2 separate regions of the Homo sapiens genome follow, and region 2 is linked to region 1. Evidence: fine-mapped expression QTL. A gene starts in region 1. The other region holds a variant in brackets. All regions are shown on one strand. Distances are from middle to middle.

What was found.
Region 2: its variant is fine-mapped to the expression of CNKSR1 in naive CD4 T cells (Schmiedel 2018, PIP 0.95).

The regions. Positions count from the first base shown.
Region 1 is chr1:26,171,987-26,186,303 of GRCh38, reverse strand. CNKSR1 (connector enhancer of kinase suppressor of Ras 1) reads right to left here and starts at 8,813. Exons shown (of 21, transcript NM_006314.3): 1 at 8,705-8,813; 2 at 5,694-5,851; 3 at 5,408-5,589; 4 at 4,363-4,447; 5 at 3,902-3,943; 6 at 3,720-3,824; 7 at 3,048-3,107; 8 at 2,890-2,958; 9 at 2,474-2,575; 10 at 2,163-2,233; 11 at 2,017-2,090; 12 at 1,797-1,903; 13 at 1,692-1,719; 14 at 1,118-1,290. The coding sequence starts at 8,756. RefSeq lists an enhancer at 3,733-4,234.
Region 2 is chr1:26,197,677-26,213,520 of GRCh38, reverse strand. CATSPER4 (cation channel sperm associated 4) reads right to left here. Exons shown (of 10, transcript NM_198137.2): 4 at 15,738-15,835; 5 at 15,444-15,564; 6 at 15,102-15,235; 7 at 13,463-13,637; 8 at 12,480-12,691; 9 at 12,002-12,167; 10 at 10,557-11,032. The coding sequence ends at 10,979. Among named protein-coding and RNA genes, the nearest start is that of CATSPER4, 15 kb to the right of the region's middle. RefSeq lists enhancers at 11,094-12,066, 15,050-15,549. The variant AAG/G (reference allele first, on the strand shown) is at 11,829.

The DNA.
Region 1 (14,317 bases):
AAAACCAAACAAGAAGAGCTTGCTCATGCATTTGTTCCTTCAGTAGACACAAACCAAACTGCTTCACACCCCTGAGCTTTCTGAATGCTGCTTTCTCTTCCTGGTTTTCTTTCCCCTTCCCATGCAACTAACTGCCAGGTATTGCATTGTCAGGGGGCATCTGGACTCCTCAGGATGGACTGGACACCTCTGCTGTGCTCCCACATATCCCTTGGGCTTTCCCTTTATCTTAGCACACGGTCCCTACATTGTCCTTGAGTGTGTATTCATCCCTCTCCCCTACTAGCCTCTAAGTTCTGGAGAAGCAAAAATCATCCAATTCTTCTCTGTGTCCATAGTGCCCAGCCTAGAGCTGGGTTCACAGTAGGCACCTGAATCCTGAATGAATAAATGAGTAAATGAATGGCCCATCATTCGGATGGACAGAATATCAGAAGGATAAGGAGAAGTGGGCAGAATAGACGTGATTTTTCGGCCAGATGTGGTGGCTCACGCCTATAATCCCAGCATTCTGGCGGGCTGAAGCAGGCAGAACGCTTGAGCCCAGGAGTTTGAGACAAGGCTGGGCAACATAGCAAGACTCCATCTTGCTATGTTGCCCAGATTTTTCAGGGCCGGGTGTGGTGGCTCACGCCTGTAATCCCAGCACTTTGGGAGGCCGAGGCAGGTGGATCACGAGGTCAGGAGATCGAGACCATCCTGGCTAACACGGTGAAACCCTGTCTCTACTAAAAACACAAAAAATATGCTGGGCGTTGTGGCGGGCGCCTGTAGTTCCAGCTGCTCGGGAGGCTGAGGCAGGAGAATGGCGTGAACCCGGAAGGTAGAGCTTGCAGTGAGCCGAGATGATGCCACTGCACTCCGGCCTGGGCAACAGAGTGAGACTTTGTCTCCAAAAAAAAAAAAAAAAAGATTTTTCTCTATACCTCCTATGATACCTTTTCCAAACTGCTTTTATACATATATTAACTCATTTCTCTCTGAATAAAGTCCCCATTTTACAGATGGGGACATCAAAGCCTTGGACCAGGAATAAGAGTGGATGATAGAATAGAGATGAGAATCGAGGCCTGGAAGTGACTCACTTGCCTACCTGTTTTTGTGTATGGGGTCTTACCTGGGGCTGGCGGTACCAGTAGAGCGTGTGTCCCTTGAGCACAAACCAGCGGCGGCGCCAGCGCGGGCCCATGAAGCCGCCCGGTGCCTTTCGCAACAGGAGCCAGCCGTCACAGTCCGGCCGGCCCAGCTCACGGCATGACACCCGCCGGCGGCTCAGCCGGGTCGCCAGGCCTGTAGCAGCACAGCACAAGCTGGGCAGTGAGGGGCTGGCAAGGTGCCCCCGCTAAACCTACTCCCTGCCTTCCACAAGCATCCCCAAGTGAGATCTCTGAACCCACACTCTGCTCAGAATGCTACATGTGTCATCTCTGAGGTGGGATGACCCTTCTTATTTTAGAGATGAGCAAACTGAAGACTAGAGGCTAACCTGTTTGCTCAGTCACAGCAAACAGGTTAGCCTCTAGTCTGGTGAGAGGCCCAGACTGGGAGCACAGCTCTGTCTGACCCTAGAAACAGAGCTGTTTCCAGGAGAGGCTGTGTGGGAAGGATGGGGGTGGTCTTGCCCAGCATGTAAAGATTTTTAACAGCTCCTCAAACAGGGGAACCCCCACCTAGTCCAGCGCACCTCATACCTTTTGATTTCTTCCGACCAACAGGACTCTGAAAGGACAGCAGAAGGGTGAGAGAAGGATCTAGGTCCAGACCCACCCACCCCCTTGCTAAGCCCCTGAGCTTACCTTGTCAGGGGATTCAGGGAGCCCTGGAGTCCCTGCTACCCCTGCTGGGAGTATGGCTGGGGGTTCCGGGGGGATGGGCAGGGGCTCAGGGCCAAGGGAGGCAGAGTCTGTCAGGGAGGGAGGAGAGAGAGGGAAAGTCTATGAGCCCAGTCCCAGGCTTGGGGTCAGAACTGGGTGCCCAGATGCCGTGTCCGGGGCATCCATGGAGCTTTGAGACTACCTGTCCAGGCAGGGCTGGGTCCGGGACTGGGGTTTGAAGACAGGTCAAAGGCAAAGACGTCTTCAGATGGGGCCCTGGGGAGGGCAAGGGGGATGAGATGAGCCCACGGTCTCCCCACCAAGACACACCTGGACAGAGCCTGTTACCTGGGAGACAGTGGGGCCAGAGACAGTGATGGGCTCCTCTGGTGCGGGGAGTCCAGGACCTGAGGGGGCGTCTGGGGAACAACCAGGAACAAAGCAATGGAGACAGGGGTCTGAAAGCAGGTTGGGGGGCAACAGGGGTAGGGGAGCAGCAGGAGCAGGTACCTGTGGGGGGGTCTGAAGGGAGCTAGGGGGGCGCAGCAGGGGAAGGTGCCTGTTGGGGGGGGTCTGAAGGCAGGTGTGGGGGTGGTGGGGGCAGGTACCTGTGGAGGGGGGGGTCTGAAGGCAGGTCGGGGGGCGGCAGGGGAAGGTACCTGTGGGGGGGTCTCCGGTATCGGGATCTTCTTCAGCACTAAGCTGAGTCCGGCTGGCTCCCGCAGCAGTTCCCTCACCATGTTCTTACGGGGCCATCCCACCTGGGGGACAGAAACACTGGCTGGTATCAACCTGGGCAGGAGGCTCTAAAGCAACCACCAACTCTCACCCTCGTGCTGGGAGCTCTCTCTCAGCCTCCCACTTCTGCCTCCCACTCATGCAGCCTCCTGGGGGCTTCCATGGGCCCCATCACCTGGGCTCTGCAGAGGATGCTCTCACCAGACTTAGCTGGCTCATCTCCTGGAAGGCAGCTCCCACAACCCTGGTCAGAACCCTTGGTTGCCTCCCCACCCACCAGACTTGGGTTCCACTCGGTGACCCCTTCACCTCCTACCATGTCCCTCTCCTCACGCACCACCACCTGCTCGTTGATCTGGACAACCTCGTCTCCAGGCTGGATCTGCAGTCGGGAGTCAGTGGGAACCTGACGTGGGGAATGGGGCCTGAGGTTGGCCTGGCTTGCAGGTGAGAGGCCTCGGGGATGGGCGGCTGAGAAGGGTGTGGGGCTCTCACCTGGGTGTCCACTTGGGACACAAAGTGCTGGCAATTGCTGGTGGTGTGAATTTCTAGGCCCTGCAGAGGCAGAGGCTATAGTCACCGGGGGCTGGGGGGCAACAGGGCCAATAGGCAGGACCCCCGCCAGACACCAGGACTCTATGGTGGGTGGAACTGTGGCAAGAGCTGACCCCAAGCTGGTCCTGCCCAGACTTGCTGTATGACTTTGGACTTGCTACTCCTGTGGGCCTCTGCCTTCTCCTCTGCTAAGAGCCAGAGGGAAGCTGGAGACCCTGATTTCTGAGGTACCAGCTTCTCAGCAACATTCCTAAAGGGACAAGCAGGGACAGGGCAGGGATAGGGCTCTGGTCTTCCCCACTGGTCAAAGATTAAACCAAGAAAGGTCACATCCTCTCCCTTTCTCCTAACTGCCCCCAAGCCCCTGCCCCGTCTCCATCCCAAGGCTGGAACACACTACCTGAGGCCACACCCGCGTGGCCCCTCAGGACTGGGGAGGTGCAGAGCAACGGGAGACCCTGGCCAATCCTCTGGGCCTCCATTTTAGCATCTGTACAAAAAAGGCTTTCCAGCCATGGCAGCACAGGGTTCTGTGGGATCCTGGACCCTATTTCAGGGCCCAGACAAGGCTGCCAAGGGGTCAGAAGTGAGAGGTGGGAGGGCAGGGCTCACCAATGGACTGTCCAGCTGCACCTGCTCGAGCACGGCCTTCTGTTCCAGCAGCTCCTTGGGGCAGCAGACCAGGATGTTGTGGCAGATCCCAGCCACGTGGCTGCACTGGGGGAGGGGAGCGGGCTATGTAGCCTGAGCCCGATCGCCCCTACCCCCACTCTCTTCCCACCCCACAGACTCACGATCCTCAGGACTGTGCCCTCCTTCTCAGCCGCTGGACCATCCTGGAAGTAGAATGAGAGAGCAGGGGCCTCCCCTGAGCAAGGGCCATAAGGGGACTGCCTTCTCCTGGGGGCAGGGTGGGATTCCGTACAGTCCCTCCCTGCCTTCCCTACACTGGCCCCCTGCCCAGAACCACAGGGCCTCAGCGTTTTAACCAGAGGGCTCGTTTCCCTGATACCAGGCCCCCAGAAGTCACCACACGTGCCCTCCCCTCCTTCCCTGTCCTGAGTGTCAAAATTCCCCTGCCAGCTAGGGGACCCCAGGCCCCATTGTCCCATACCCAGTGGCAGGGCCTCCTCTCCTCCTTTCTCGCCCGTCTCAATCCTCATACTCGATCCTGGGCTGATTCACAGGTTATAAAAAGCTCTAGCCCAGCTTGGTCTCTAGGGCATGGGCCAAGCCTGGCCCTTGGTTCTCCTACCTCATGCAAGACCTGGCTCAGCTCCTCCAACAAGTCTCGGATCTCCTGGCATGCTGAGAAATCATTTAAGTGGGAGAAGAGGTACCTGGCAGGGGAAGAATAGCACAGTGGTTAAGGGACTATGCTTAACCACTCAGAGCCAATTACTCACCAATTACTCACCTCAGAGACTTGGGGATAATACCTGCTCTGATGGGTTTTGGTTTAGAGTAAAGGAGATGATTGAGACATCTAAAGAGATTAGCACAGGACTTATTTGTCATGTGCCTACCACATGCCAAGCCCTGTTCTAGGCACTGGGGAAACAGACAGTAAAGACATCATACATCAATATCAATTTAACTTTGGCTGTAATGAGTATCATGAAACATTGGATAATGAGTTTATAATAAGTTATTATTTATTATTTATTAATAGTATAGCTTGGAGAGTGTACAACAGGGAAGGCTTCCCCGAGATGACATTTGAGGTGGGGTCTGTAGGACAAGCAGCAGCCAGTGCACAGGGTTGGGGAGGCTCTCCATTCAGTGGTTGTTGATGAGATCGATTATTACAAGCTGGAGGGTGGGGTGGGAACTCTGGCATCCCAGTGCCCCTGCACAGGTGGATTAATCCCTCTGCCCTGCTCCACCATATCTTTTTTTTTTTTTTTTTTTTTTTTGAGAGGGAGTCTCACTCTGTCGCCCAGGCTGGAGTACAGTGGCATGATCTCGGCTCACTGGAACTTCCACCTCCCAGGTTTGAGTGATTCTCCTGCCTCAGCCTCCCCAGTAGCTGGGATTACAGGTGCGCACCACCACACCTGGCTAATTTTGTATATTTTTGGTAAAGATGGGGTTTCACCATGTTGGCCAGGCTGGTCTCCAACTCCTGACCTCAAGTGATCTGCCCGCTTCGGCCTCCCAAAGTGCTGGGATTACAGACCTAAGCCACCACGCCTGGCTCACCATATCTGAACAAGAGCCAAGATCTGTTTTTCTCTCCCACGCCCTGAAGGAGGCCAAGGATGACAATAGTCCCTCACTCGTCACCCCAACCCGGGTACCTGCTGAGCCAGAAGAGGAGGGCGTCAGCTTCATGCAACAGCTCCACAGCTGCACAGAGGACATCAATAGGGGTCTTGGCACAGTCCCCCAGGCAGCCTTGGACTATGCTCTGGAAGTCATGGGTTGCCCCCAGAAGTCCCTCTGTCAGGCTTTGCAGGTTCTCTGTCTGTAGCCTGGAGCTCTGTGCCAGAAAGAGGGCAAGTCACCTCCCTGGCAGCAGCCAGCCCCCCATCACACCCCCCAGGTTGGTGGAAGCTGCAGCCAGTGTGACCAGCATTCACTCACCAGGGCCTGGAGCTGTTCCACCCCGCCCAGGATGAGCTCCTGGTGTCCCAGAGACCGCACAGCCAGAGCCTCGAGGCTTTGGGGGCAGAGCTGGAGCAGGTTCTTGCCAGGCAGCTGCCAGTCCTCAAAGGGATAGTCCTGCAGGGAGTCGTCAAGACCTGGAGGGAGAGTAAGGCTCAGCTCGGGGAAGCAGAGGTGTCAGGACCTTTTGGGATGGTTCTTCATGCCTGCAAAGCTCTTTTCCCTCTAGTCTAACCCTAATGACAACTCTGACACCCAGGCTGTTCTGCCCATTTCACAGATGAGGCCACTGAGTTGAGAAGCAGGAAAGTATAGGACATGGGTTCTTAAAAGTGGCCCCCAGACCAGCAGCAGCAGACTCACCGGAGAACTTGTTAGAAATGCAAATTATCAGGCCTCACCCCACACCTGCTGAATCAGAAACTCTGAGGTTGGGGCCCAGCAGTCTTTTTTTTGTTTTTGTTTTGTTTTTTCTTTTTGAGACAGGGGCTTGAGACACAGTCACGGCTCACTGCAGCCTTGACCTCCTAGGCTCAATCCATCCTCCCACCTCAGCCTCCCAAGTAGCTGGGACTACAGGCACACACCACCACACCCAGCTAATTTTTGTATTTTTTGCAGAGGTGGGATTTCACCATGTTGCCCAGGCTAGTCTCGAACTCCTGGGCTCAAGCAATTTGACTGCCTCAGTCTCTGAAAGTGCTAGAATTACAGGTGTGAGCCACGACGCCCAGCCAGCAGTTTGTATTTTAATGCAGGTGACTGTGATGCTCCCTTAAGTTTGAGAACTAATGATACAGGGGATAAGAACAAGAGGCTATGGAGTCACTGAGACACTGTGAACACTTGAGCAAGTAATAGCACTGCTCTGTGCCCAGTTTTCTCACCTGTAATGTGAGAATAATAAAAGTACCTACCTTCTAATCATGTGTGTATTGAATGACACAACATATGTCAAGGCCTTGGCCACTGTCTGGTTCGTGGGAGACAGCCAATAATAGCCATCATATTATTATTGCCAGACTTTACCATGACCTACAGGCCCTGTATGATTAGGCTACTACCTCCCTTTCCAGCATCATATCCTGAAGAGCCCCCTAAACTCAACATTTCAGATGCACAGAGCTAATTCCTTGCAGCTCCTGGAACACCCTTTTACCTCAGCGTCCTTGCAAGTGCTATTCCTCCTGCTGGCGTTGCTCTTCTATCTCCTTCACTTCCTTTTTCATCTAACTTCCTCCAGGAAGCCTTCCATAACTTCCCAGGCTGAGTGGGATGGAGGGCTCTCCTCTTGTTCCCACTGCCCCTGAGCCTCCACAAACCCCTGCACTTGACCATCGGTCTTTCCCATTTTATCACAGGCTCTTCAAAGATCAGGCCTTAGATAACCATTTGTCTCTAACCCCCGGCCTGTGCCTGGACAAGGTAGGCACTGAAAAATAAGAAAAGTGTCTATTGAGGGCTTACTATGTGCTATGCAAATCTATAAGAGCTTTACACATATTAACACATTTGATTCTCACTGCATTTCTAGGAGGTAAAGACTATCATTATCCTGCTTACAGATGGGAAAACTGACACAGAGGTTAAGTAGCTTGCTCACTCTTCGAAGGAATTCTTCCCCTTCTAAGCCAGGCTCCTTCACTGGGGGAGGTGTGTGTGTGTGTTCCCTGTGTCACATTGAGAGCACTGGACTGGGAGTTCATGAACCTATCACTCCCTGGCTATGGGCCCCTGAGCCACCTCCTTCCTGCACGGTGACTGTATTGGGCTGGTGCCCTCCCAATAGACCCAGGCATTGAGCTACAAATGAACTATGTCATGATTGTCTCACTTTGTCGACTTCATAAGGTCAGAGTTGCCTTTCCCATTTGATGGACAGAAAAACTAAGACCTATGGTCACAGAGCTGGCAAGCGGTGGGGGTGGGCCTGGAATCCAGCCTGGGAGTCTGAACCCAGCCCTGAATTCCTGCCCTTACCCGGGCTGGTCCTCCTGAGCCTGTCTCTAGTGCGCTCCAGCTCCCCACTCTGGGAGGGGTGTCCTGACTGCCTGCTCCTGGTCGCACTGTGTGTCAGGAGGCCCTTCCTTCTCTGAGTCTGCCTGTGGGGTGTGTTGCTTCCCATCTGTGTGGGCTCGCTGAGCCTGGACAGCACCTTGCCCCTTGGATAGGAGCCCCAGGGTGGGGCTGTGTCAACCTCTTCAGTCTGGCCTAGGGCTTCTGCTTCTGTCACTAGGAGCTCAGGGTGTGGAGCGGGGAAAATGACACCAGAGACTGAGCAAATCATTTCCTGGCTCTGTGTGTCAGTTTCTGACTCTAAGAAACGGATTTAACAACAGCCCACTGGCCCTGGGGCCAGGGAAGATGAAGGAGATACAGTGGGTGTGGGCCTGTCAGGCCTCCCTCCTGTTTTCATGACACCGCCTCCCCATTATCACCCTAGAGGCCTCTTGGGCTACTGCCATGATGAGGGGCCCCCTTCTGGGTCCTTGGGCCCCCCAGGGTCATCTCATCTGTCTCTCTGCCCAGCACGGTTCCTGGAACATGTTAGGTGCTCTGTAAATATTTGTTGACTGACTGACCGACTGATAGAGCCCGCAGTTTATTATTTTTTTTTTTCTTTTGAGCTGAATCTCGCTCTGTCGTCCAGACTGGAGTGCAGCGGTGCAATCTCGGCTCACTGTAACCTCTGCCTCCTGGGTTCAAGCGATTCTCCTGCCTCAGCCTCCCAAGTAGCTGGGATTACAGGCACCTGCCACCACCCCCAGATAATTTTTGTATTTTTAGTAGAGACGGGGTTTCACCATGCTGGTCTTGAACTCCCGACCTCAGGTGACCCACCCACCTTGGCTTCCCAAAGTGCTGGGATTACAGGTGTGAACCAGCGCACCCAGTCCGCAGATTTTTTTTCCTTTTCCTCTCCTCCCGCTTCCCGGTGGGACACCACACCTAGTCCCCTTCAAGCCCAACTCTACCCCAGCCCCACCCACCTCTCAGCCAAGTTGCCACCTTTCCGGGGGTCCAGGTCTCTACCGGTTCCATGGCCCAGCTCTGCCAGCTCGAATCAGCTCCTGTTTTGCCCTGCTGTCGCCGGAATTTCCGCTCCCAGAGCCCAGGCCTAAGGAGGGGCCGGGCTGGGTCCTGGGCGGAGCCTACTGCATACCTGGGCTCACACAGACGGCAAGATGAGGCACTGCGACAGCCATTGGCCCACGCCCGTCCGCCTCCTGCCCGGCCCTTCAGACATCCTAGGGCTCTGGCATCTCGCGCCTGCTAGGGGGCAGTGCCACTGGCCTCATATCGCGGGGTGGGACCCTGACCCTTGGGCTCCTCAAGAAAAAGCCACAAGAGGAGCGCTGAAATCAGTAGCAAAGCACAGAGGCTAGGGGGCCAGGTCCCTGGGTGCCTAGGCCAGCTCTTGTTAGCTGTGTGACCTGGGGCTGACCCTAACTTCTGCGCCTCAGTTTCTGGGTCTGTAAAAGAGATATAATAGACCGTACTTCAAAGGGCAGCTGTGCACAGTATCTGAATGGCTTGAAAACATTTAGAACTGGGGTGTTTAGCCTCCCTTGGATTTTGCAGTATGGACTCTGGCATCTGGTGAGGCCTGTGAATGCTTTCTCAGAATAGCTGCTTATAAAGGCATAAAACAGGCCGGGCGCGGTGGCTCACGCCTGTAATCCCAGCACTTTGGGAGGCCGAGGTGGGCGGATCACTTGAGATCAGGAGTTCAAGACCAGCCTGGCCAATATGGTGAAACACCATCTCTACTAAAAATACAAAAAATTAGCTGGGCGTAGTGGGTGCTTGTAATCCCAGCTACTCAGGAGGCTGAGGCAGGAGAATCCCTTGAACCCAGGAGGGGGAGGTTCCAGTGAGCCAAGATCGTGCCACTGCACTCCAGCCTGGGCAACAGAGCAAAACTCTGTATTATAAATAAATAAATAAATGCACAAAACAAAATGCTTAGGATTACAATGAGAACAATTATCAAAACTATATTTAAAAACAAATTTGGCCGGGCATGGTGGTTCACGCCTGTAATTCCAGCACTTTGGAAGGCCAAGGCGGGTGGATCATGAGGTTAAGAGATGGAAACCAGCCTGCCCAACATGGTGAAACCCCGTCTCTACTAAAAATACAAAAATTAGCTGGGTGTGGTGGTGCACGCCTGTAGTCACAGCTACTCAGGAGGCTGAGGCAGGAGAATCGCTTGAACCTGGGAGGCGGAGGTTGCAGTGAGCTGAGATCACGCCTCTGCACTCCAGCCTGGCAACAAAGCAAGACTCCGTCTCAAAAAAAAAACCCACAAAAAACAAAAAAAAAATTTGGAGCTGGGGAGTGCTGGCACACGACTGTAGTCCCAGCTACTCGAGAGGTTGAGAGGTTGAGCGGGGGAGTATCACTCAAGCCCAGGAGTCAAAGCCACCCTGGGCAACATAGCAGGAGCCCATCTCAAAAAAATAAAACCAGAAATTTATATTATGTGTTTACTAACATTAATAAGACTGGCCGAAAGTTAAATTTTTCTTTTTTAATGACCTCAGTGTGTTGTCGACCAGCTTGAATAAGGACATTAAACTGTGGGGTGGTCTTTGACGCCCCTCCTCTTACATATTGATCAGCAAACAACTAAAAACAGGGAATGCTGGGCCGGGCATGGTGGCTCACGCCTATAATCGAGACGGGCGGATTATGAGGTCAGGAGATCGAGACCATCCTGGCTAACATGGTGAAACCCCGTCTCTACTAAAAATACAAAAAATTAGCCAGGCATGGTGGCGGGCGCCTGTAGTCCCAGCTACTCAGGAGGCTGAGGCAGGAGAATGGCGTGAACCCAGGAGGCAGAGCTTGCAGTGAGCCGAGTTCGCGCCACTGCACTCTAGCCTGGGCGACAGAGCAAGACTTCGTCTCAAAAAAAAAAAAAAAAAGACAGGGAATGCAGAAGAGTGGAGAAGCCCTACTCAGAACAGGCAGATTCGCCCTTTGGTCACTGAACCACTGCTAAGCCTGGAGGTAACCAATTAATGGCGGCTACATCACAGGAGCATCTGAAACAGAAGTTGCTCACGAACAATTTAGTGGTGGTTTAACAACCACTGTGATTTTGAAATCACTTGAGCATAAATATTTTGAGATACTTGCAATAACTACAATTTGATATGAAAATATGTGATTTCTATTGGTGACTAAGCCAAAGATACTGCTACTGCTTCAATCCATATAGAAGGAAATCATAAATTTTGGTTAGAGTTTAGCAAAAATAAAAATATAATTTTTTCCCATCCAAGTTTATGGATCCCCTGAATTCTGAACCTCAGAGCAAGAGCTTTAATCTTAGAAAAATATCTGACACATAGTAAATGTTCATTTTCATCATCATCATCAGGTCAGGGGACTCCCAGGACTTTAGAATCAGATAAAATCAGCCGGGCGTGGTGGCTCAGGCCTGTAATCCCAGCACTTCAGGAGACCTATGCGGGCGGATCACCTGAGGTCAGGAGTTCGAGACCAGCCTGACCAACATGGAGCAACCCCATCTCTACTAAAAATACAAAATTAGCCGGGTGTGGTGGCACATGCCTGTAATCCCAGGTACTCGGGAGGCTGAGGCAGGAGAATTGCTTGAACTCATGAGGTAGAGGTAGCGGTGAGCTGAGATCGCGTCATTGCACTCCAGCCTGGGCAACAAAAGTGAAACTCCACCTCAAAAAAAAAAAGGCCGGGCGCGGTGGCTCATGCCTGTAATCCCAGCACTTTGGGAGGCCAAGGCGGGTGGATCATCTGAGGTCAGGAGTTCGAGATCAGCCTGGCCAACATAGAGAAGCCCTGTCTGTACTAAAAATCCAAAAAATTAGCCGGTCGTGGTGGCGGGCGCCTATAATCCCAGCAACTCGGAAGGCTGAGACAGGAGAATTGCTTGAACCCGGAAGCAGAGGTTGCAGTGAGCCGAGATTGCGCCACTGCACTCCAACCTGGGCAACAAGAGCAAAACTCTGTCTCAAAAAAAAAAAAAATCAGATAAAATCAGTTCCATACTCAACTGCTATGTGACTCAGCCCAACTTCTACAGCTCTCTGAATCTGTTTCTTTGTCTCCAGAAGGGGATTCCTAGGCCTTAGCACTGTGATGACATTAAGTACTTTGAAATCTGTATCATGGGGTAGATATGAGTTATTATTGCTTTAATTCTGTGGGGAGGAGCTACCTGTTGTCACCTACTTCAGAATTTCTGCAGCACCCCCAGTCATCAAAGCCTGTCACGACCTTACCTGTAACCCAGAGACCCAAAGTCTGAATTTCGCCCATGGTTGGCCCATGTAGTGTACGTGTGTTGTCATCATTTAATAACGTCACATCCAAATTGAGATTTCCAGCTTCTCTGAACTTGGCCAGCTCTGGTGATGCCATCCCACCTTCACACTTGGTATTAACAGCCTCTTTCATTTTGTGAGCCAGTTGGCTTCAAATTTGCAAAATGCCCGTCTCCAGCTTTGTCTTTTGCCTCAGGTCTGTGTCCCTTGAACACTCCGTGCTGCATCCTCGTTTAACATTTTTGCCTCTTCATGCAGCAGCCTCCCTGTGGCACTCTGGGGAAGTCCAGTAAATTCTAATAGAGCCTTTATCAGTGTTCGGTAGACAGATCTTGATTTCATCAAATATCTTTCCTGAGCTGCCACCAGAGGTGAGAACCAGCCCCCTCTCTCCCTGAACCACGGCGCCTTTACTCTACGCTCCCAGCATCTGCCAGGGTTAGGCAGTTAGGAACACAGTAAGTGGCAGCTTCTATTTATTTTTATCTATTTTTTTGAGACAGAGCTTTGCTCTTGTTGCCCAGGCTGGAGTGCAATGGCATGATCTTGGCTCACTGCAACCTCCGCCTCCCAGGTTCAAGCTATTCTCCTGCCTCTGCCTCCCAAGTAGCTGGGATTACAGGCGTGTGCCACCATGCTCGGCTAATTTTGTATTTTTAGTAGAGATGGGGTTTCACCATGTTGACCAGGCTGGTCTCAAACTCCTGACCTCAAGTGATCTCCTTGCCTCGGCCTCTCAAAGTGCTGGGATTACAGGCGTAAACCACCACGCCCGGCTGACAACTTCTATTTTAAAGGGTTTCATTTTGTTTTTTGAGAGAGTCTTGCTCCGCTGCCCAGGTTGGAGTGCAGTGGCGCAGTCTTGGCTCACTGCAACCTCTCCCTCCCAGGTTCAAGTGATTCTCGTGCCTCAATCTCCCAAGTAGCTGGGATTACAGGTGTGCGCCACCACACCCAGCTAATTTTTTTATTTTTAGTAGAGACAGGGTTTTGCCATGTTGGCCAGGCTGGTCTCGGACTCCTGACCTCAAGTGATTCACCTACCTTGGCCTCCCAAAGTGCTGGGATTACAGGTGTGAGCCACCATGCCCAGCCTATTTTAAAAAGCTTTATGAATATAAAGTTCTACATATTTGCTGTATACATTTCAAAGGTAATAGGTTAAGTGAAAGAAGGATGTGCCCTTTCCCCAGTGTGTCTCTATCATGTTCCCCAGTGGGGGCCACTACTAAATTTGGGATATTCTTCTATTTTCTATATCTGCAGATAGTCTACATACTATTCTGCAAATTGTACTTTTTCTTTTTTATTTTTATTGGAGACAGGGTCTGGCTCTGTCACCCATGCTGGAGTGCAATGGTGCAACCTCAGCTCATTGCAGCCTCCACCTCCTGGGCTCAAGTGATCCTCCCACCTCAGCCTCCTGAGTAGCTGGGACTACAGGCATGCACCACCATGCCTGGCTAAATTTTTTTTTTTTTTTTTGGTAGAGATGAGGTTTCACCACGTTGCCCAGGCTGGTCTTGAACTCCTGGGCTCAAGCCATCTGCCTGCCTCAGCCTCCCAAAGTGCTGCCCAGCCATACTTTTTCATTTAAGAGATAATCGATAGCAAATGAAATAATACAAGTTAAGTGCTTAGAACAATGACTACTATTTTTAACGTATCACGGGCAGCTTCCTTAATTGGTATATGCAGATATGCTTTTATTATTGTTTCAAGCTGAGGGCAGGGAAGTCCCTGAAGAAACTTTGTCTTGAAAAAATGGGTTAAATTGGCCGGGCGCAGTGGCTCACACCTGTAATCCCAACACTTTGGGACGCCAAGGCGGGGGGATCATGAGGTCAGGAGTTCAAGACCAGCCTGACCAATATGGTGAAACCCCGTCTCTACTACAAATACAAAAATTAGCTGGGCGCGGTGGCAGGTGCCTGTAATTTCAGCTACTCAGGAGGCTGAGGCTGGAGAATCGCTTGAACCTGGGTGGCAGTGAGACGAGATCATGCCACTGCACTCAAGCCTGGGTGACAGAGTGAGACTTCTGTCTTAAAAAAAAAAAAAAAAAGGGTTATATGTGCCCTCCCTTGAGGTAGGGGCGGTTGATTTCACAGAAATCAAATGGAAAAGGCATACTGTTGTGGGAGCTAATAACACATCCTTCCTTCGATAATGCTGATTGGTGGCATCCAATCATCTAAGGTAGCGATGGGGCCTGGACCAGGGCTGAGGGAGGCCCGCCCAGTACCTGGTCCAGGCCTGGGACTCCTGAGCACTGCCAGCCAAGGCCTC
Region 2 (15,844 bases), 26 kb before region 1:
CCTGGGCAATAGCAAGAGCCTTGTCCCTACAAAAAAGAAAAAGAAAAGTAGCCAGGTGTAGTCCCCGCTACTGGAGAGGCTGAGGCAGGAGGACCACTTGAGCCCAGTAGTTTGAGGCTGCAGTGAGCTATAATTATGCCACTATACTCCAGTCTAAGTGACAGAGTGAGATCCTGTCCTAAAAATAATAAAATAATAATAATAATGGTAAAAAGTAAAACATAATGGAAATACCAATGCAAAACACTTCTGGACTTGTTTTATTACTTTGAATTTAAATATAATTTTCTTTCTTTTTTTAAAGTTTACTGTTTCTATTTTGGCAGGCATATTTGGTCAGAGGGATGAGCTGTAACTTAAGAGCAGATGCTGCTAGGTGCAGTGGTTCACGCCTATAATCCTAGCATTTTAGGAGCCTGAGGTGGCAGGATCACTTGAACCCAGGACTTCAAGACCATCCTGAGCAACATAGTGAGACCCCATCTCTACGAAAAATTTTAAAAATTAGCTGGGTGTGGTGGTGTGCACCTGTAGTTGCAGCTACTCAAGTGGCTGAGGTGAGATGATTGCTTCAACCCAGCAGGTCCAAGCTGCAGTGATCTGTGATCACGCCACTGCACCCCAGCCTGGGCAACAGAGCAAGACCCTGTCTCAAAAAAACAAAACAAAAAAAAGAGCAGATGCTTTATATTCATCAATGCGTATTGTTGAGAGGAGGGGGAGTTTGTCAGTCACGTAACATTCTGTTGTTGCAGTCAATTGCAGTCAATCGTATATTGTGATACAAAGTGCCAAATCATATTAATAATAGCTGGTAGGTAAATGCAGTCGTATACCTAGCGAAAGAAAATGAGACACAGTTCAAACCCAGTTTATCTGGCAGAGCCCATGTTCTTCTTACCCACAGGGGGAAAGAAATAACACAAAAGGAAAAGCTGTCTCATTCTCAATGTGTAAAAACTCGATGATGTACGTCATATTTTCTGTGGAGGGGCACATGCAGCATGTACAAGTTGGCACATAACCCTGGTTTTACTGAGAGTCTGCTGAGGTAGTGACAACCCTCTAATGGGCCAGCATCTGCCTCAAGGCTTGACTAAAAACCACCTGGATTGGACTTCTACCTTGCACAGCCCTGCTTAGCTCCCCTGCTCTGCAATAGATATCCCAAGGTGCTGCATGAACATTCCTTAGAATGAGGATTCTAGGAACAAATAATCTTAGGAAATATATGCTATAATCTGCTGCTAGGAAGTCACAGGAAACAGTGGAATATTAAAGGCTCTGAAAAGTTCTTCAGTCGAGACACAATTTTGTTGAATCCAGCATTTCCCAAATGTATATGACAATAGAACTTTTTTTTTTAAGTGAAATGTCTATTGCAATCACATAGCACTGGTGTCCCAGGAAATACATTTTGGAAAACAGTGACCCATAAGTTAAGCACTGCCGGTTTTGCATGTAACAAAAGCTTCATCCCAAGGCAGGACTACCCAATAGACCAAGGCAGGAATGCCAAAGAAATATTTTTTAAAGGAATTAGATTTTTTTAAAAAAAGACACAATAGTCATTTTAGGAAAAGCAGAATTTTGTTAAGTATATTTTATTATATTTTATTGAAAATAGAGACAGGGGTCTGGCGCAGTGGCTCACGCCTGTAATGCCAGCACTTTGGGAGGCTGAGGCGGATGGATCACAAGGTCAAGAGATTGAGACCATCCTGGCCAATATGGTGAAACCCCCTCTCTACTAAAAATACAAAAATTATCTAGGCATGGTGGCACGTGCCTGTAATCCCAGCTACTTGGGAGGCTGAGGCAGGAGAATCGCTTGAACCAGGGAGTCGGAGGTTGCAGTGAGCCAAGATTGCACCACTGCACTCCAGCCTGGCGACAGAATGACACTCCGTCTCAAAAAAAAAAAAAAAAAAAAAGGTAGAGATGGGATCCCACTAGGTTGCCCAGGCTGATCTTGAGCTCCCACCCTCAAGTGATCCTCCCATCTCAGCCTCCCAAAGTGCTGGGATTACGGGCATGAGTCACTGCGCCCAGACTTGTTAAATTTAAATGCTTGGGGGAGGAGAGGTTAGAATTATTTCAACCGTGAAGAACATATGTTTGGGGGATATTATTATCTTTTTGCTGTCTTAGACCCAGCTTCAGGCCTGCAGAGGATGGATCTGGGAGTTTGTGGCACTGCCTGTCGGAGGCCCTGTGAACTCAGCCTTTCTGTAATATCTGCCACACTGACTTGCCCCAACAGTCAGACTTTTGCCTTAGTTTTTCCACCTGGCCTTCCAGGCCTCCGCTGGAACTACAGTTCTTGTCTTTGGTGCAGCTCCTTCCCCCAGGAAAGTTTCATCTCTGGACAGTAGCTAGAGTCCTGGGGGCTGGAGCTGAAAAATTGTGCACTCTATCCCATATGCCCAGCTGCCTGTCTTCCCACCAGAAATCACCTCTACCCAGGTGGACTCAGAAGATGCCAACGTCTTACCAAACTTCACTGGCCCTCTCATACCCTTTGGACCCTTTGAGACTTCACAGAATTATGGTGTCCACTCTGGCCCCCACCTCTTCTTTGTTTTACTCACATGAGTTCCTCAGACTTACCCGCGTGGAAGTAGTAGCTGTCATTGCACATACAAACTCCCCTGCTACCTGCATACTCATCCAAAGCACAGGCTCCAACTCTGGGACCACTACTCTGGGTGTGTTTAGGGGAGGTTTGACTGGCCCCAGTTACAGCAGAGGATTTTGTTGTTTCCGAGGACCTGGGGAGAAGGCCTGTGGAATGAGCAGCTGTCATCTCATGTGACTGGATTATAGCAGTGGCAACACTGGAGGTTGATTCTGCCAGATGGGAAGGTGTCTGTGAGACTGTGTTATGATGTGTTCCAGACAACTTGCTTATCATGGAGGTGGTTGTTGGGGATAAGGATGCAGCTGTAGTTTTTCCTTCCTGAGTCTCAGATGTAGTTGTTCCAAGAAGAGTTGTCCCGAGAGTGGTTGTGTTTAGCAAGGTAGTGTGCATAACTTCGCTGGCTGTCATGGGTGAAGATTCTTTTATGCCAGTGGTTTTGTTCAGTGCTGTTGGGGATGTAGTTATAGCTGACTTCCCAGAGACAGTGGTTGCCATGGACCCGGATGATTGAACATGATGGCCTGGCGTGCTCTTTGCTGTTGGGGATGTAGTTATAGCTGACTTCCCAGAGACAGTGGTTGCCATGGACCCAGATGATTGAACATCACTGCCTGGTGTGTTCAGTGCTGTTGGGGATGTGATTGTGTCTGATTCCTGAAAGCCAATGGACACTGATGATTGTGTCCCATTGACTGTGGTGTTTGATGCTGATGGAGTTATAATTGGAGTTTCCTGATTCTGTTTTGGGGTCTCAACTGAAGAGGCCGTGCTGGATAAAGCTGTGGTTCTTGATATCCCTCCCTGGTCCTTCAATGTAGAAGTCATGATGGAATTTGGCAGCAGTGTACCCTTGGAGGTTGTGCTGATAGTTGTGTTTAATTTCTCTTCCTGAGTTTTTTGTATTGAAGTTGTCTGCTCAGTGGACCCATTAGAGCTGCTGTTTGTGGAGAGGTTGGAGGAGCAGCTGGTGTTGTATGCTTCTGGGACTCAGATGTTGATGTCTTGTCAGTTGTTGGTGAACTGTTAAGTACAGCTGGAGAGACATTGTCTTTCCCTTTGTTAAACAGAGTTGAAGTTGTAGATGAACACAATATAATTTCCTCAGGTGCAGAGTCTTCTGTGGAGTGTATTGTTTTTGACACAACTCCCCAGATTGTAACACTGCCTGTGAAAAAACAAATAAACAGAAGGTAATCTAGACTGGGTATTGTGACTCATGCCTATAATCCCAGCACTTTGGGAGACCGAGATGGGAGGAATACTTGAGGGCAGGAGTTTGAGACCAGCCTGCTCAACATAGCGAGACCCCATCTAAGTAGAGAAAAATAAAAATTAAAAAAAGAGGCCGGGCATGGTAGCTCATGCCTGTAATCCCAGCACTTTGGGAGGCTGAGGTGGGCAGATCATGAGGTCAGGAGTTCGAGATCAGCCGGGCCAACATGGTGAAACCCCATATCTACTGAAAAAAAAAAAAATTAGCCAGGTGTGGTGTCCCATGCCTGTAGTCCCAGCTACTTGGGAGGCTAAGTCAGGAGAATCACTTGAACCTGGGAGGCAGAGGTTGCAGTGAGCTGAGATCATGCCACCGTGCTCCAGCCTGGGTGACAGAGAGAAACTCCATCTCAAAATAAATAAATAGATAAATAAATAATAAAAGAGAAAGCAATCTACCTGTTCCTTCCACCAAACCAGAGTTATTTTCAGATGTTATGACTTGTCAAATATTCTTACTGGGAGACTCCCTAAAAATAATATCAGGTCGTGCACAGTGGCTCACGCCTATAATCTCAGCACTTTGGGAGGCTGAGGCGGGAGGATTGATTAAGCCCGGGAATCTAAGGTTATAGCAAGCTCTGATTGTGCCACTGCACTCCAGCCTGGATGACGAAGTGAGACCCTATCTCTAAAATAAAATTATATATATAAAATATATATACATATAAATATATATTATATATACATATAAATATATATTATATATACATATATAAATATATATTATATATAATGTAGTGGGTGTTGATTTACATACATATGTAAATCTTACCAGCTCACATTTATGTGCCAGCTCTGTGCCAATAGATTTCAACAGATGTATACCAGGGAGAGAGAATTTTACTTGTGCAGGTAACTATGTCTCATTCCACTCAATGGCTACTCTAGACAGTGCAAGTCAGTAAAAGACAGAAATCTGTTATCTCAATTGGTGTTTGATTTCTTGATGCCTTGTTTGATATTAGTTTCCTACTGCATTGAATATGATTCTAGTATTTAAAGATACGATTTTTTTCTTTTTTGAGACAGAATCTCGCTCTGTCACCCAGGCTGGAGTGCAATGGTGTAATCTCAGCTCACTGCAACCTCAGCTTCCCGGGTTCAAGCCATTTTCTTGCCTCAGACTCCTGAGCAGCTGGGACTACAGACATGAGCCACCATGCCTGGCTAATTTTTGTATTTTTAGTAGAGACAGGGTTTTACCATGTTGCCCAGGCTGGTCTCAAACTCCTGACCTCAAGTGATCTGCTTGTCTCAGCCTCCCAAAGTGCTGGGATTACAGGGATGAGCCACTGTGCCCGGCCTAAAGATATGAATTTTTTGAACAATATGACCCCTAACTGCAAGCCGAGTGTTTCATTGAGTGTCATAGCAGTCAAGGATCATTTTGATATTGTTCAAGTGTCACCCTGCCCAGGTAAGGTGCTGCTCCAATGCACAGGCACATTAAATCCTTACAACCAACCTGTAGAAAAGGACTATTATTTCCATTTATCAAATGAAGAAACTGAGGATCAGACAGGTGAAGACATCTGTCCAAGGTCACACAGCCAGGAAGTGGTGCCACTGCATTTGAAACAAAGTCCATCAGACACCAGAACCCAATGCCTTCCCTACCACACTGCACTGCCTTACAAAAACACAGCTTTATTCTCATGGTTGAGCCAGCTGCTCTCTCTAGAAAGGCCCAAATCAATTATGTTGGGCTGGATTCCTTGGAAACCTTCTTCTTTCCCCTGGGTAATGGGCAGAAATAGGCCCATCACCTGATGTGCTGTTTTTGCATTCTTGGCAGTTTTCTTTCTTTCTTTCTTTCTTTCTTTCTTTTTTTTTTTTTTGAGACAGCCTCACTCTGTCACCGAGGCTGGAGTGCAGTGGCGTCATGTTGGCTCACTGCAACCTCTGCATCCTGGGTTCAAGTGATTCTCCTGCCTCGGCCTCCCAAGTAGCTGGGACAACAGGCGCATGCCACCGTGCCCTGCTAATTTTTGTGTTTTTAGTAGAGATGGGTTTTTGCCATGTTGGCCAGGCTGGTCTCGAACTCCTGGCCTCAAATGATCCACCCGCCTCAGCCTCTCGAAGTGCTTGGATTATAGCCGTGAGCCACCGTGTCCAGCCTCTTGGCAGTTTTCAAAAGGCTAACTCAGAAAATTGGAGGCTGGCCAGGCATGGTGGCTCACGCCTGTAATCCCAGGATTTTGGGAGGCTGAGATGGGAGGATCACCTGAGGTCAGGAGTTCGAGACCAGCCTGACCAACATGGTGAAACCTCGTCTTTACAAAACACACAAAATTAGCCAGGCGTGGTGGCACACACCTGTAATCCCAGCTACTTGGAAGGCTGAGATAGGAGAATCGCTTGAACCCGGGAGGCACAGGTTGCAATGAGCCAAGATCATGCCATTGCACTCCAGCCTGGGCAACAAGAGCAAAACTCAAAAAAAAAAAAAAAAAGGAAAAGAAAAGAAAAGAAAAAAAACTGGAAGTGACCCAGCCCAGGTGGCAGGCTCATTCTTTGTCCTTCCCATCGCCTAATTCTGAAGATGCACCAACCCTTCTTTTCTGGCACCATCCACACCCTCACTTTTTTTTTAGAGACAGAGTCTCAGTTGCCCAGGCTGTAGTGCCGTGGTGCAATCATGGCTCACTGCAGCCTCAAACTCCTGGGCTCAAGTGATCCTCTTGCCTCAGCCTCCTGAGTAGCTGGGACTACAAGTGCGCACCACCACACTCGACTAACATTTTTCTTTTTATTATTTATTTATTTATTTGAGATGGAGTCTCACTCTGTCACCAGGCTGGAGTGCAGTGGCGTGATCTCAGCTCACTGCAACCTCTGCCTTCTGGGTTCAAACAATTCTCCTGCCTCAGCCTCCCGAGTAGCTGGGACTACAGGCGCACCACATTGCACACACATTGCACCACACCCAGTTGATTTTTTTTTTCCTCACTCTGTCACCAGGCTGGAGTGCAGTGGCACAATCTCAGCTCACTGCAACCTCCACCTCCTGGGTTCAAGTGATTCTCCTGCCTTAGCCTCCCGAGTAGCTGGGACTATAGGCGCATGCCACCACGCCCAGCTGATTTTTTTCTTTTCTTTCTTTCTTTCTTTCTTTCTTTCTTTTTAAAGACAGATTCTCACTCTGTTGCCAGGCTGGAGTAAAGTGGCACAATCTCAGTTCACTAAAACCTCCACCTCCCGGGTTCAAGTGATTCTCTTGCCTCAGCCTCCTGAGTAGCTGGGACTACAGGCGCGTGCCACCACGCCCAGCTAATTTATTTTTTATTTTTTTAGTAGAGACAGGGTTTCTCCATGTTGGCCAGGATGGTCTTGATCTCTTGACCTCATGACCTGCCCCCCTCAGCCTCCCAAAGTGCTGGGATTACAGGCGTGAACCACTGCACCCAGCCTTCTTTTTATTTTTTGTAGAGATGAGGTCTCACTATATTACCCAGGATGGTCTCAAACTCTTGGCCTCAAGCAATCCTCCTGCCTTGGCCTCTAAAAGTGCTGGGATTGTAGGCATGAGCCACCTTGCCCAGTCCCACACCCACTTTCTTCTGGCCCTGTGCAGAGCTAAGGGATTGCAACAGGCCAGGGGAATTGGCAAGGATGCTTGGAAAGGGTAGGGGGACCTACGCTCTACACCTGGCTCTATTACTGGCTTGCTGGGTGACGCTGGGGAAGGTCTCACCTCTCTCTGGGCCTCCATGTTCCTCTTAGCCTAGTGAGGGACTTGGCTCAGTGTGGAGGAGCATTGTAAACTCTAGTCATCTGTGGGGTCCATTTGCAACAAAGATCTAGTTTGCACTGAACCTATATGTCTTGCTATAGGGGTCTCAAGTTTTTATTTGCAGGGAGGGATGTTTCCACTGAATCTGACTTTATGTTTTTTCCATATAGTTAATCAGTTATCCCTGCCCCCTTATGGAAAAGTCCATCTTTCCCCCAACCAACACCACATTATCTTACTGTTACTTTATAGTAAGCCTCAATATTTGGTCGGGTGAGTCACCCATCTTGTGCTTCAAAATTATCTTGACAGGCCGGGCGCAGTGGCTCTCACCTGTAATCCCAGCACTTTGGGAAGCCGAGGTGGGCAGATCACTTGAGGTCAGGAGTTCGAGACCAGCCTGACCAACATGGTGAAACCCCATCTCTACTAAATACAAAAAATTAGCTGGGCTTGGTGGCGCATGCCTGTACTCCCACCTACTCGGAAGGCTGAGGCAGAAGAATTGCTTGAATCTGGGAGGTGGAGGTTGCAGTGAGCCAAGATCGTGCCATTGCACTCCAGCCTGGGCAACAAGAGCAAAACTCCGTCTCAAAAAAAAAAAAAAATTATCTTGACTATTCTTGGCCTTTTGTTCTTCCTTACATATGTTAGGATCAGCTTAACAATTTCTACAAGCAACCTGTTGGAATTGTGATTGGAGGTGCCCTGCAATTATAGGTTCAGTGAGGATTGACATCTTTATGATATTGAGGTTTCCTGCCCACAGAAGCTCCCTTGAGAAGTGTGACCTGGGCTCTGAAGTCAGACCTGGGTTAGGATCTCAGTTCTGTGATGGAGGATAAGTCCCCCGTGGGGACATATCCTCTTCATACCCACTTCACTGATGGTCATGAGGATGAAATACTGCGTGTGAAGCACTCAGCACCATGCTTAGCACCTAGTAGGTACTCAATGAGTAGAACTGCTATTGGGAATGATTATCCCCTGCTGCTCCTGTCATCAGAATTGGTGTCTGCTTCCTGGACAGTTTGCCAAGGATGCTCCTGTCCCTGGTAAAAGTTATGGACTCATAGGGAGTCCCCAGAGGTCCACTGATTGTAGCTGATGGGAAACCCATCAGGTGAGACCATAGGGGTGATGAGACACACAATTTCCAGCCACCTCCCAATATCTTCCCCCGCACTGTCCTAGGAGCTCAGAATCCGGGGCCCCACTCCTAACTCAGGCTCAGTAAGGCATGGGGAGTGGTAGTTGCTCTTTGCTGGAGTAGGGAAGGGGAAGGGGAAGGGGAGAGTATGACTTCCTGGGCCCTCAGTTCCAGGCCAGTTTGGGAAGGAACTAGCCTGCTGAAACTCCAGGCTGTTAGGTTGGCCCGGATGGGAAAGACAAAGGCAGAGACAGATGAGATGACAAACAAGATGAAGGGAGTAGATAGACAAAATAGCATCCTGGAGGAGATAGATGGTCAAGGCCAGGAGCTCCATGGAGGTCACCCTGCTGTGCTCCTGACTGTAAGCTCACTGATGCTCCAAGCCTTTCAGACAGTTAGGGGTGAAGGATAGCCATACTCAAACTGTTAGCTCCTCCTGAAGACACCATCTGATCTGCCACCTTCTTCCCTCTCTGGCCAACAAGAAGAGGGGCTGAGAGGGCCCCCAGAGAAAGATGGGTGGAAAGAGTATGTAGATACTCACCAGGCAGGTTGAGGGCGCCATCTCCAGTAAGTAGCAACAGCAGCAGCAAAATCCGCTGGGTGCCCTTCTCTGTGCTGCTGATGGTCCTGGAGGGTGCTGGGAAGAAGTCCTGGCTCAAACAGGGGAATAGATTAACGGCTCCGAGACAGTAAGGCACTGCTGGCTCTGTTGCTGCCTCTCATCTGCCTACTGAGTGCACCATCCATCCCCAGGGGCCAGACTCCTTCCCAACAGACCCCAGGGGGCTTTTCAGAGTTGGAACCAATGCTGATGGGAGGACGATGGGGGGTGGGGTTTCCCATCAGCTGCAATCAGTGGACCTCTGGGGACTCCCATTCCAACTGGTGAATATCGCCACGGCCCCTAAGTGTCAGGCTTCGCTGAACAACAGGGCAGATGTCCAGGCCTTCCAGGCTATCCCCTGACACCTGCATCCCAGGGACATAGCTGATCCCATGGGTCTTCCACTTCCTGGGATAAGAGGGGATTATTTGATTTTAGAGATGGAGATCAATCTCACCCTCTCTCCATCGCACAGATGGGGAAAACAAGGCCAAGTGACTCACTGAAGGACCAGAACCGAGGTTTCCTGTCCTCCAAGGCAGCTCTTTCTATTGCCCATAACTGCCACAATTTTCTGACTCTCCCCAGATTGCATAGCTCAGGAACCTGCTGAGGCTCTCAGTGGCCTTGAGTATGAAGATCCCAAATAGGCTTCACAGGTCCTAAGTTCCCCACCAGACTTCATTCATCTGACCCGCAAAATCTTCCTCTCCTCTAGGAAGCTGCCAGGACCCACATTTTAAGTAGTCAGTCTCCATTGCCCTAGGATGGAGGTGCCTGTACTTGTGTGACTTGGTCATTGGTGATCCCATCAGACAAGGGCTCCCCAGAGTGAGGACCAGTCTCCATCTTCAGACAGGGAGAGAGCAGGTAGGGCCATCTCCTTCATCAGACAGGGGCTCCCTCCCATGAGGACCAGACTTTCCTCCACAAAGCTTAGGACCCTGAGGGCAAGGGTTATATCTCTACCATTAAGTCAGAAATTTTTAGGGGTGCAATTCTCCCTCCCATTAGACTGGATGCTCTTCAGGGCAGCCTGTGACTCTCCCACCAGACAAACGGGATTTTGAGGGGCAAGATCTGTCTTTCCTATTAGACCCAGGCAAGTGCCCCAAGGAGTTGGAGATCCACCAGTCAGAGACATTGATTCCAACACAAAACTTTATTGTCAACACACAGATGTCTGGCCCCACTGGCCTTGCCTTTCTCTTCTTGGTTCTGGGGCCCACTGAGGCCCCCCACCAGCTCTGGGCAAGAGCAGGGGGCCAGGGATCCCCATCCTTAGGTCAAATCCTGGCTGCGTTGGCCAGCACCCCCTTCTGTGCTCATCCTTGCTGCTAGGGTTCCCACTCTCATCATCCAGCATCCTCCTCTCTCCTTGCTCCACCGGACCTGGGGCTCACAGGCACCAGACCTGCAGGTGCTGCCACCTTCACAGCCCCTGGCCTCTGCCCAGGTATAAGGGAGAGGATGGGCTCTGGCCAGGCTCTGCCAAGCCACACTAAGGACACAGGAAGACGCAGCGGCTGGGTGTGTGTGTGCAGGCCCCTTGGCTCCCATCCTGGCCTCTCAGTGGCTGCTCTTGTGTTTTTTAAGGAGTATTTGTGAGCTAGAGTCATGAACCTGCAAACCAAGAGGTCTTCTTGTTAATCCCCCACTCCCCCCGATATGGCAGCCTCCGTTACTCACCTCCTCCAGTCTCACCAGCTTCCCCAGCCAGGCCTCCCAGAGAAGTGCTTCATAGGTCTAACTTGAGCCTACCTAGTACCCCCTCTGAGTTTGGGAGCCCAGGGTATATCCCAGGCTGATGGTGTGGAGGGGCAGAAAAAGAAACTAAGTAACGTGGGTGTGTGCCTTTTTCTCTCCAGGAGTTCAGGAGACAGCTGGTTTTGTGCACCTTAGATAGGATCCTGGGTCCTGTGCCCACACTATACTTACAGCCTAAGTGTCTGCCACTAGGCAGGCACTGAGCTGGCTCATGCCACACACACTAAGAAAGGGTAGGTTTGAAGGCACTAGAGATGAAACTGGCAGGAAGGGTGGAGCCTTTCCGAGAAGGAAAGTGCAGAACCTAACCAGATAGGCAGTGACAGCTGAGGCAGATGGAAGTTTAAGAGGCAGACAGCCAGGTGCAGTGGCTCACGCCTGTAATCCCAGCACTTTGGGAGGCCAAGGAGGGTGGATCACGAGGTCAGGAGTTCAAGACCAGCCTGGCCAAGATGGTGAAACCCCCATCTCTACTAAAACTACAAAAATTAGCCAGGTGCAGTGACAAGCACCTGTAATCCCAGCTACTTGGGAGGCTGAAGCAGGAGAATCGCTTGAACCCAGGCCGCAGAGGTGGCAGCGAGCCGAGATCGCGCCACTGCACTCCAGCCTGGGCGATGGAGTAAGACTCCGTCTCAAAAAAAAAAAAAAA[AAG/G]GAAAGAAAGAAAGAAAAAGAAAAAAGAAAAAAAAGGAGGGGTGGTGGTGGTGAGGGGGACCAGATCTTGGAATAGACAGAAACTTTGACAAATGGTCCAGAGGCCCGGCTGGGCTGGGCTGAGCAGAGTGTCAGGGCGAGTACCCATTGGGTAGGAGAAGGAAGGCACACCTTTTCCATGCTAACGAGCGCACTGAGCAAGTCTTGCTGTTGAGACATCTGGCGGATGTCCTTGGATGACGTAGTCTCCAACGACCCGCTCGTCGACGAGCGCCTGTTCAACACCTCTGACTCCTGCTCCTGGTTGAAGCGGATTGCGCGCACCTCCTCCACAATCCTGGGGGTGGAGCAGTGAGTGCCTTTCAGAAGGCCTCAGGGGAGGGAAGCAGCCCTCCCACCTCTTCCCTGGCGTCACCCCCGCTTCGCTCTCCCACGCAGCCCTGACAGAGACCCAGGCCGAGCTGTGCCCTTGTGTGAGATGGAAGGAACCTGGAGTCTGGATTCCAGTTCCTCCACCAATAGGGTGGGGGACCTCTGTGGGGCCCAGGCTCTGCCTTATAAATGGTGAGGGCGTGAGGCCAGAAGACTCTGACGCTCCGCCCAGCCTTGACTCACATGACTTGGGGGCAGCCCCAGTACCCTCCCCTACATGTTGAGTTCATCTCGGATCTCCTTGTACTGCCTCAGGTTCTCCTGTATTGCCTCAAGCACCAAGCAAAAGTTGTCACACGTGTTTTCTGAGAGGTTCGACAGGGGGCCTCCCGCAAGGGGTTCCTGGAGGAGACCAGATTTCTCCGAGCGGGCGACCACACAATGCACCAGTGGCAGCTGGTCATTCTCCTCCTCTTCCTCTGCGCCTGTCTGGGAAGCGGGGGATAGAGAGGGGTCGGGACAGCTCAGGCAGGCACGCCCCCGGCACCCTTTTCCTGCTTGGCTTCAGGATGAGTCTCTTAGGACCCCAGGGTTCTAAGGCCCTCATTTCAGCTCTCACCAATCTTAGCCTCACTGCCTTGCTGGGGGAACCCAACTTTAAATGCACATGACCTCCCCCCACCTCTTTAAAAATTCTCACCCCATTTCAAAATTTAGCCCTGCCCCAGATTTCAACCCTGATAAACCCTACCCAGCAAATTTATAAAGCCCTGCCTACCCTCAAGCCCAGGCCTCCAGCACTCCACTCTTTTAGAAGTACTCCACCCCTTTCCCCAACCTTATGGAAGTACTGCCCTGAATGAATAATACCGTAGCTAACATTTATTGAGTGCTTACTATGCGCCAAGCACTGTTCATTTACCCATTAACCCTCATAAAATAACCCTATGAGTTAAGTACTATTATTATTCCCATTTTACAAAAGAAAAAAATTGAGGCTTAGAGTGGGTAAATGCCCCAAGGTCACCCAGCTGCTCAGTTTTGAGTTGCCATAGAAATCTAACATCTAGAAAATCCACACCCCTCAGAAGCCCCAGTTGGTGGGTGGGCACTCAAGATGGGGGGCTGCTGCCTCCAGGCCTCCAACTTGGCTTTCTCCAGGCCCTTGATTATGCAAGCACACACATACATGCACATATGTTCAAGTCCGCTCTCATACACACTCCTTTTCCTCCCTTCTGCCCTCCCCATCCCACGCACCTCACTAAAGGTTATTCGTTGCTGTTGTCCCTGCTCTCCTGCCTTCATCATTTGCTCCAGGTTGGTGGTCACCACGATGACGAACAGGTTGATGCCAATGAAGGCACCGATGGTGATGAAGATGGTAAAGTAGATGGCACCCCCAATCTCCATTGCATATTCCCTCTTCTCTGTCCTGCAGATGGCAGGCAGGGGCCCCATCATTTCCCTGGCCCTTCAAGCCTGAGTTTCCTTGTCATTGAAATGGGAAAATCATCCCAAGGCCTACTAGAACTTCTGCCTGTGTCACTGCTGTTGTGCAGATCCCATTCCCTACTCCTGTCTCAATAGCTGCTCTCTACTAAGCACCTACTGTGCTGCCAGACAGTGAGCTGATTCTCTAACCAACCCTGCAAGGTGGGGACGTGCACATCAACACTATTAAGTTTAATCTATTAGCTACACTCCTTTTTTTTTTTTTGAGATGGAGTCTCGCTGTGTTGCCCAGACTGGAGTGAAGTGGCGTGATCTCGGCTCACTGCAAGCTCCACCTCCTGGGTTCATGTCGTTCTCCCGCCTCAGCCTCCCAAGTAGCTGAGACTACAGGTGCTTGCCACCACGCCTGGCTAATTTTTTTTTTTTTTTTTTGAGACAGAGTCTCACTCTGTCACCTAAGCTGGAGTGCAGTGGCGTGATATGGGTTCACCGCAACCTCCGCCTCCCAGGTTCAAGCGATTCTCCTGCCTTAGCCTCCTGAGTAGCTGGGATTACAGGCGCCCCACCGTCCGGCTAATTTTTGTATATTTAGTAGAGACGGGGTTTCACCTTTTTGGCCAGGCTGGTCTTGAACTCCTGACCTTGTGATCCACCTGCCTCAGCCTCCCAAAGTGCTGGGATTACAGGTGTGAGCCACTGCACTGGGCTTTGTTTTTGTATTTTTAGTAGAGATGGGGTTTCACTGTGTTAGCCAGGATAGCCTTGATCTGACCTCGTGAGCTGCCCACCTCGGCCTCCCAAGGTGCTGGGATTACAGGCGTGAGCCACCGCGCCCGGCCCCGGCCAGCCTGATTTTTATCCACTACCTATGCCATAATGGAGAATGACTGTAGAAGCCCTTTATCTACTGGGCTTCTATACTCACATGTAGAAGATAAAAAGAAATCAGTTAAGGGGTCCCACTTTCTGGAATAAACTGGAAAGAAATAGGGCTTAGACTTAATAGAAAAGAGGTAAAGAACAGAACACAAAAATGAATGTGGGCAGTGGGTTTAAGAATGAATGAAATGAGACCTGAAGTTCCCAGGAGTTCAGGCAGTTTGGTGGGCTCCAAGGTGGGCTGGGAGGTTGCTCTGTAACCTGAGGCATAACTGCAGACCTGCTGCCTTATCCAAGGCCAACTACCCAGCTGGTTAGCATGATGGGAGAGGTCCCCATTACAGGGTGGGAATGGGACTCTGAATATATGGAGATTCAAGGGTGACAAGGCTTCAGGTATCACAAGTCCAGGTATTTCCTTTTCCTCTGTTTAAAGACCTGGGAACCCCCACTTCTACTGGGCCATCCTCATCCCAATCCCTGGAGCTCCCACTCTCAGCCTGGAGCTCCACCGGCTACCCTGCCCCATAGGTGGGATGAGGCTGGAAGTCCCACTGGCACTCACTGGAAGTCACTGTAGATGTCCACCCAGCCGTCCTGGGTGATGCAGATGAAGAGGGTGTACAGCGCAACCTGTATGTTCTGGAAATGCTTGGGCACGAATGCACCAAAGAGTGTTACTCCAAACACGGAAAAAACCTGTCAGAGAGAAAAGAGCCCCACCCCGACTTCACCAAAGGGCCTGGAAATAGGACACACAAATGTCATGTAAATGAACGCTGCTGAGGAAATCACAGGGATTCAGGCCCACAGGCCTCTCTGCTTTTCCAGACACCCCTCTATTTGCAATGACCCAAGGGCCCTGTTCAGGGAAGGGAAACAGCTGGGGGCGGGGGCAGGCACTGACCAGCATGAAGAAGAGGATGAGGACCATGATATTGGCCATGTCAGGCACCGACTGCAGGATGACGCGGATGATCCGGGCGAGGGGCTCCACCGCCATGCACACATGCACCAGACGAAGCGCCCTGTGGCAGAGCCTGTCAGGGGTGCCCCTAGGCCCTTCCCAGCCCCTTCCCTCCTCATTACCCCCACCAGCTGCCCAGAGAGGCAAAGCTGATCTCCAGCTGGTCGTTATCCCCCCATCTCATTCCTGGGTTCCAGATAGGTCCCCCTCATTTCTCCAGAGCTCCCCGCTCACCTGAGAGTGTAGTTGATGGAGGGAATATTGATTTCATTAATGAAGAACCGCAAGAGCAAGATAAAGACGATAATGAAGTTGAGGATGTTCCAGCCGTCCTGGGGAGT